Regions from separate parts of the Homo sapiens genome. Here region 2 is linked to region 1. The links come from fine-mapping of genetic effects on gene expression. A gene starts in region 1. The other region holds a variant in brackets. All regions are shown on one strand. Distances are from middle to middle.

Evidence for each region. PIP is the estimated chance that this variant, and not a neighbour inherited with it, causes the effect.
Region 2: its variant is the best candidate, but not a certain one, in a credible set for the expression of HDAC4 in whole blood (TOPMed, PIP 0.63).

Annotation. Positions count from the first base shown.
Region 1 is chr2:239,398,398-239,402,776 of GRCh38, forward strand. It overlaps HDAC4 (histone deacetylase 4), which reads right to left and starts at 2,623. Exons shown (of 27, transcript NM_001378414.1): 1 at 2,581-2,623. HDAC4-AS1 (HDAC4 antisense RNA 1) reads left to right here and starts at 3,039. Exons shown (of 2, transcript NR_135575.1): 1 at 3,039-3,139; 2 at 3,678-3,960. RefSeq lists silencers at 2,272-2,441, 2,452-2,891, 2,912-3,031, 3,302-3,571 and an enhancer at 3,702-3,831.
Region 2 is chr2:239,278,358-239,282,736 of GRCh38, forward strand. All of the region lies in intron 2 of HDAC4 (histone deacetylase 4), which reads right to left. Among named protein-coding and RNA genes, the nearest start is that of MIR4269, 25 kb to the right of the region's middle. The variant A/T (reference allele first, on the strand shown) is at 1,958.

The DNA.
Region 1 (4,379 bases):
TCACAATGAAGCTGGAGAATGGAAGTCGATTACTGGGCATAAATATGCAGTAGTTAAAAGGAAAGAGTTATAACAAAATTAAACTGCAGCAACCCCACAATGTGTGGAAACTTCCAGCACTAGAGTCCTCCTGGTAAACATCCATAGGGCATTCTTCTCAACGAGGTCTCTGGCCACAGAGTCCAGATGGGCTGCCTGAGCCGCACGTGGCCAGCGTGCCAGGTTGTCCTGTCCATCTTGCTACAGCAACAGCCCCCAAGGCCTCCGAGAATATGGCATTTGGGGATTTTTATTTTGCATGGCTAGGAAGCTGCTGAACACAGAACATTCTCTCTGGTGCAGGGCTCCGAGGCCACATCTGTCCTTCGTCCCTAGGCCTTCCAGGCCCATATGCAGTCCAGTCATCTTCCCTCCACCCCGTCCCCTTAGCCCAGGGCTCCCCCGGGGGCATGCCTGCTGCCAGCTCCCCTTGCAGGAGAAAGAACCCTAAAGAGGGCAGCGTTACATCTGCCTGCTGAGTACAGCCGGCTTCTTTTCTAATTGATTACTGCTCTCTTTAGGATGGGATTTGATCTCTAAAATAAAAGCCCAGAACACAGAAAGCTATAGAAGTCTTACAATGTGTTGGGGTGTGTGTTTTTAAGGCATGAAAATACTTCCCTCCCACACAAATGTGAGTTCTTCTGGGGAAAGATGCCACAGATCCCAGAGAGTAGAATATCTGGGAAAGCCCGATCAGTCTTAAAAATAGGTAATTGAACACAGATTTTAGAATTCACAAGAGCTACCTGAAAAAAAATTAAATTTCACATATTTTTGATATCCAAAACTCCATTCTGATGAAACTTCTAACTCGGTGGCATTTTGCATTTCCAATTATAATAGAGTAATTGTGTTGCCATAGTTACTGCAAAATTCTGCAATAACTTTTGTTGCTTTGTAACTGCTGTAGTGTATATTTGTGTACAAGCAGCTGAGTTTTCTTAATTCGATCTCCCTCCCTTCCACCCTCCCTCTCCCCAGCCACCACCACCACCTTTCCTGGCTAGGTCCTGAAACCACCACACCAGCCTTCTTTGGACAGTCCCGAAAATAATGCACAGAATTATCAGAAGCAATTAAAACTCCAGGCAACCACGATCATATTACAAAAGAAAAAGTGAAACCAGGTCAAGGTGCAAACCTGCCAGTATCCCCCCAGTCCTGCTGGGCTGGCGCTGGGCCAGGACTGTTTACAGGCTTACTCCCAGGCCTTAACTGCTTCGGTGATTTGTGGGAATAAACAGAAAAGCCTGAACAGAGAAAAACGGGGCGGCAAAGTGACTGCACAGGCCCTTTCCTCCCTCACGGAGAGCAAGCAGAACTGCTCTCAGCAAGCAATTAGGTAGGTCTCTACAGTCATGCAATTAGGATTTAGTGAAGAAAGTCATTAGTTTTAAAATAACTTAAGTTTAATTTCTGCAACGCTTTATTTGAAAACTGTGTCACAGCAGGTCAATTTACAACATGCAATAAAGAAAACACTCATATCAGCTGCCTCAAGTTATTACAAATTTTTGATGTGCATTAAATGAGTACACTGGGTTCCACCCCCGGCCTTTCCAACTGATACGCACGGTCTCCTCCTATAACAGTGTCAAATAATTCAACGCTCAATGTAAATACGAGATAATTTGCTTATGATTCCGTGGTGTGTTTTCGCAACGCCGGCAAACGCGGATCCCACCCCCGAGCGGGACCGGGCCCCGTCTCGGCCTGCTGGCGCCCTGCGGGCTGAGCCGAGCGGGTCCCGGGCAGCCCCCCGCCCTCCCGCGACCCCCCGGGCGCTCGCAGCGGCGACGACAAGCGCGGGGCCGCGGACCCCCGGCAGGGACGTTTTTCTGCAAACTCACAGCATTTGACAAAGTTACATAAACGGCGCCCGGCCGGCCCCGGCGCCCGCCCGCCCCCGCCCTCACTCCCGGCGGCCCGGAGCCCACCTGCTCGGGGGGCGCGGGCCCCGCACCGGGAGACGGCGCCGCTGCCTGCCGTGCCCACCCCCGCGCCCCCGCCCCGGCGGGCGAAGCCGCCTCGCGGCGCGGGTGGAAAGGTCCAGAAGGGGCCGGGCGGCCCTGGGGACCGGCGGGTCCCACGGCGCGCGGCCAGCGCTGGCCCCCGCCTCCCACGGCCGCGCGCGGGGCGGGTGTGGACCGGCGGCGTCCACCTGCCGCGGGCTCCAAGGCCTGCAGGCTGCGCGGGGCGCGGGGCGGGCGGCGGACAATGGCCCGCGGGCGCCGGGCCGGGGCTGCGCTTACCGCGGCGGGCGGCGGCGGCCGGCTCTAGCCCTGCTCCGGCGCTCCGCGCCGCATCTCCTCAGCCTGCGCCGCCACCCGCCGGCGCGCGGGCTCGGGCTCGGGCGGCGACAGCCGGGACGCGGCCACGGCGCCGCCGGGGGCCCAGGCTGGGAGGCTGTTCGGGCGGCGGCGGCGGCGGCGCGGGCGGGTGCGCGGGCTCGGGCTCGGGCTCGGGCGGCGGCGGGGACGGTGCTCCGCGGCGGCGGCCCCACAACCTCCCCTCCTCATTCACAAAAAATTGACCCACGTTGAACCATGATGCTTCTCCCCACTCCAGCGTCGAGCCAGGCGGCGATAGGCCACCCCGCACGCCCGTCAGCCGGCCCGGCCCCGCCCAGCCAGCCGGCGGCTCGCCAACCATTGGCTGCGGCAGCCTTGCGTCACCTCCCCTTGCGGGCCCCGCCCTCCCGCCTGGTTTCTAATGAAGAGCTCGTCAATTACGGCTCGGCCCCGCCTCCCGCCCGCCCGCCCCGGGCGCCTGGCCGGCCTTCCATTGGCCCGCTGAAACCTGCGCACAGCCCGTCTGCTCCCACCCCTCGCCCAGCGGCTGCTCAACCGCGGGGCCGGATGCCCTATGAGCGGCAGAGAGGCTCCACCCCTGCCCGCCTCCCCGCACGCGTCCTGGACCTCATTGGCTGCTGGAGCTGCCAATTCTAGAGGGTGGGGCGTACCAAAAGACGCTCCAGGCGCCAGCCGCTGGGTGCTTCGCGGTTGAGGAGGCGCAGGGACCGGGGGCCAGTAGTGGCCGTAAACACGGGCCCCGGCCGTGTCCGGTCGCACTCGGTAGCCCGCATGGCTGCCTAGCGGTCAGCACCGCATGTCTGCGAGCCTAATTCGCGCTTAGAGGGCACACAATGGGGTGCAGGCTAACGCGGGGAGCCGGCCAGGCCTCGCCGCGGCGTCCATCTTGGATACTGGCAGTGGGTCACGTGGTGCTGCGTGCGCACGGAGGCGCAGGGCGGCCCGGTCACTGAGTGCGCAGGCGCCGTGGGCCTCGCCCTGCCCCGCGGCGGGAACGCGGCCGTGAGGGTGTGGGGTGTAGGTCCGCCAGGCCTGCAACGGCTGCCGAGGGTCGTGGGATGCGCTCGCCGCGTCCCTGCTCAGGCGGAGGGAGCCCGGCCCGCCGCCAGGGTCTCGAGTCCGGGTCCAGGCAGGCGTGGAGGTGGCGGGAACGGCGCACCGCCCGGGTGGGCGTTGTTTTAAGGCCGCAGGGCTTGGGAGGCTTGTGTTGAGTTACAGGTCGGCCCGTAGATCCCCGGAAGCGCCTTTGGTTGCCAGCAGGTGTCGGCGAGGGTCTTCAGTGGCCACCCTCCTGGTGGTGATGTTTCCGTTTCTTTCCAACAGGAGTATGACAACTTTTCAACTTGAGTGCACACACTGTCCCCGGAATCCCGCGTTCCAGGGAGGAAGCGCCTTTGACAGCGCGCGCCGGTTCGTGGGGCCCGACGGCGTGGGCCTGTGGTTGCGGACCTGGCGGAGATGCGCGTTCGCTTCGATTGTAGGCCATTCCTTTTAGGAGCTGAGAAAGGATCCGTTTTTACAGCATTCTCGACCTGTGATTCTTGGTGGGGGAAACTAGTTATGTGGATAAAAATACAGTTAGCAAAATAAAAATGCCAATTTTACATTTCCTTAAATATCTCATTAATAATTAGAAAACTTTGGTCATTGCAAGAAATGCTTAGGCTAAACTTAGAAGGAAAGGAATGGTGAATTAGAGAACTTTAAAACAAGATACAGCTGAAGAAAAGGAGAGCAATTACGGGGTTTTGGAGACTTGGCTGCTGATGGAAACGGTGCACTATCTAATTTTCATGTAGAATGAAACAGGGTCTGTAGCTAGCTAACATCTAGATAAGATTCAGTATCATTTGACAGGATTCTCAAAAACATACAATCACGAGAAAATATTAAAACCTGCCTGTAAGTCTACCAAAGTTAGTTTTTCACGTACAAAGAGAAGTGCCTGCGCAAAAAGTCACGTGAAACGAGCTCTGGGATCTAATGCTTGCAGAGGTAATTTTTAAAAAGTAGATTTCCATTAGA
Region 2 (4,379 bases), 120 kb before region 1:
GAAAAGGATAATTTTTAAAATGTAAAAACATATTTTGGGCCAGGACAAGGGCTCACGCCTATAATCTCAGCATTCTGGGAGGCTGAGGCAGGCAGATTGCTTGAGCCCAGGAGTTCGAGACCAGCTTGGCCAACATGGCAAGACACCATCTCTACTAAAAGACAAAAATTAGCCGGGCATGGTGATGAGCAGCTGTAGTCCCAGCTACTCAGAAGGCCGCAGCAGGATCGCCTGAGCCCAGGAGACAGAGGCTGCAGTGAGGCGAGATCATGCCACTGTACTCCAGCCTGGGTGACAGAGGGAGACTGTCTCAATAAAAACAAAAAACATGTTTTGTACCACATGTCAGTCAAAATAAGTGGCCGAAGGCTGTGGTTTGCTTTAATTCACCTTCTAAGGTGGCTCTGGACCTTCCTTCAGGAAACGGCTTTCCTGCCCATCAGTGTGGCTCTCTTCCTCTTTAAACATGAGGACCATTGGGGCCGGGGCCGGGAAGACCACACTCCTGAAGCCAGGTGCAGTAGTGTGGACATGTAGTCCCAGCTACTCAGGAGGGCGCCTGGAGCCCAAGAGCTCGAGGCCAGCCTGGGCAATAGTGTCAGACCCTATCTCTTCCAAACAAACAAATAAAAAGACTATGCTGCCGGCAGGACTGAAAAACCAGAAAGAAAGAAAAGTGGGGCTGGTGTGGGGCCACACCCTGCCCCAGGCGGGGAAAGTGGTTGGAGGTAATGGGGCAGCAGGGCCCACAGGCCGGAGGGCTCCCCTCCTGATTCCAGGGCATCAGCAAACTCAAATTTCATAATGGCTTTTGCTTGCAAAAGCAAAGTGCCTGATTTGCTGTTTCTCCCAGGAGACTCTGGGCTGCTAAGAAGGCAAAGCCTGAGGTCTGTGCCTGACCAGGAGATGCTCACGTCTCTGAGCTGAAAACAGTGACTGAACAAATGACTCATTAGAGGGATCAATGAACAAACTGGCACCAGGCACTAAATTCACACTTGATCCCCTCAGCCTTATAATAAACTCATGAGGCAGTTCTACTACATCCATCTTACAGACGAGAAAATCAAGGTTCAAAGAAACTAAGTAATGCTCCCAATATCTAGGCAGAAAAGCTGGGGTTCAGGCCCGTCTCTCTGCCTCTGAAGTCTGTCCTCTCTCCAACGTCCCAGCAGAAAACCTCTCCCTAGAGAGGACACTGTCGGGGTGAGGAGCAGAAGGGCAGGGGTGGGAGCAGCCCAGGGTGGAGTGAGCTGGGACAGCTCCAGCAGCAGCAGAAGCCAGAAATCTCACACAGCCCCCACAGTGCCTCCCACAAATGAAGGTCTCCTGAGAGCAGGGGACCTGGGGACAAGAACCAGCCACACCAGGCCAGGCCCGCAGGGGGCATGGGATGGGGGCGACTGAGTGAGGAGTGTCCCCTACCCTCACCACGAGAGTCCAGGTGGAAACCGCGCCCTCAGGATGAATGGCCAGCTCTCACCGGGCTTCTCCACGCCTTCCCCAGGACCCTTCCCTAATGTTTCCAAAGTGGCCACAAACCATGAGTGGCCTGTCTGACGTTTCCCTCCCCGAATTCTAGGATCAATAACTGTGGTCCACAGAAAGTGCGGATCCCACCTCTCGGGAGCATCTCATCCCTTCCACTCCTGCGGAAGAGGACAGCACCCCCCAACCCCAAAGTGCCTGTGTTTCCTAGCACCCTGGGATTCCAGCTCGTCAGCTAAGAACTGGCCATGCTGATGAAATCTCCTTATGCCACTTGAGACATGTGCTGGTTCTTGTGGCATCAACCCTGAAAAACATGTTGGTCAAAGAAAAAAAAAGGCATCTGGAAATTTCTACCTTATATTCTCTCGTTTTTAACAATGCCAGCAACCCAAGAGTGGGGGCAAAGCTGATGTGCGAGTGCCTCGTACTCCCGAGACGCTGTGTTAAAGAAGGAAAGAAGGCCACA[A/T]GCCCTGAAAGCACATTTTGCCCCAAACTCCACTTCACGTTACATGCACGAAGAACATTAGAGGAATACAGAGCTGTTTCTGGGAAGCCAGCTCCACTGTATGAAACATTGAGTCAGCATGACTCAGCCGTGCCGACTGGTCCCTCCGATGGGCGAGCCAGGGGCACAGAAGGCAGGCAGGTGACCCGGGCACTGCACGCCTCCCCACCTGGTCCCAAATGCTGAAGCCTCCAAGCAACTTAAAAAGGGTAAGGAAAACATTGTGGGAGCAGGTGCATTGTGGCCTCTGCCAGGAGGCTCGGGGGCCTCTCTCCCGCGTGAGGAAGACACCAGGCACAACAAAGATGCGACGCAACATCCTGGAACTGTCTGCTGTTAACAGGGGATGGCAAACTCCATCCAAGTCTTGTCCCCATGCACACACGTGTGTAAACCATGTACACCACTCCACAATGTACACACCACTCTACAATGAACACACCACTCTACACACAATGTACACACCACTCTACAATGTACACACCACTCTCCACACAATGTACACACCTCTACAATGTACACACCACTCTCCACACAATGTACACACCACTCTACAATGTACACACCACTCTCCACACAATGTACACACCACTCTACAATGTACACACCACTCTACAATGAACACACCACTCTACACACAATGTACACACCACTCTCAATGTACACACCACTCTCAATGTACATACCACTCTACAATGTACACACCACTCTTAATGTACACACGACTCTCAATGTACACACCACTCTACACACAATGTACACACCACTCTCAATGTACACACCACTCTACAATGAACACACCACTCTACACACAATGTACACACCACTCTCAATGTACACACCCCTCTACAATGAACACACCACTCTACACACAATGTACACACCACTCTCCACACAATGTACACACCACTCTACACACAATGAACACACCACTCTACAATGAACACACCACTCTACACACAATGTACACACCACTCTGCAAACAATGTACACACCACTCTACAATGAACACACCACTCTACACACCATGTACATGCCACTCTACAATTTACCCACCACTCTACACACAATGTATACACCACTCTACAATGAACACACCACTCTACACACCACTCTACAATGTACACACCACTCTACAATGTACACACCATGCTACAATGAACACACCACTCTACACTGAACACACCACTCTACACACAATGTACACACCACTCTACAATGTACACACCACTCTCCACACAATGTACACACCACTCTACACACAATGTACACACCACTCTACAATGTACACACCACTCTGCAAACAATGTACACACCACTCTGCAATGTACACACTACTCTACACGCAGTGTACACCCCACTCTACAATGAACACACCACTCTACACACAATGTACACGCCACTCTACAATTTACCCACCACTCTACACACAATATATACACCACTCTACAATGTACACACCACTCTCAATGTACACACCACTCTACAATGAACACACCACTCTACACACAATGTACACACCACTCTCAATGTACATACCACTCTACAATGAACACACCACACTACACACAATGTACACACCACTCTGCAAACAATGTACACACCACTCTACAATGAACACACCACTCTACACGCAGTGTACACACCACTCTACAATGAACACACCACTCTACACACCATGTACATGCCACTCTACAATTTACCCACCACTCTACACACAATGTATACACCACTCTACAATGAACACCCCACTCTACACACCACTCTACAATGTACACACCATGCTACAATGAACACACCACTCTACACTGAACACACCACTCTACACACAATGTACACACCACTCTACAATGTACACACCTCTCTACACAATGTACACACCACTCTACAATGTACACACCACTCTACACACAATGTACACACCACTCTACAATGTACACACCACTCTACACACAATGTACACACCACTCTACAATGTACACACCACTCTCCACACAATGTACACACCACTCTACAATGCACACACCACTCTCCACACAATGTACACACCACTCTACAATGTACACACCACTCTACAATGTACACAGCACTCTCAATGTACATACCACTCTCAATGTACACACCACTCTACACACAATGAACATACCACTCTACAATGTACACACCACTCTCAATGTACACACCACTCTCAATGTACACACCACTCTACACACAATGAACACACCACTCTACAATGTACACACCACTCTGCAAACAATGTACACACCACTCGACAATGTACACACCACTCTACAAACAATGTACACCCCACTCTACAATGTACACACCACTCTACAATGTACACACCACTCTGCAAACAATGTACACACCACTCTACAATGAA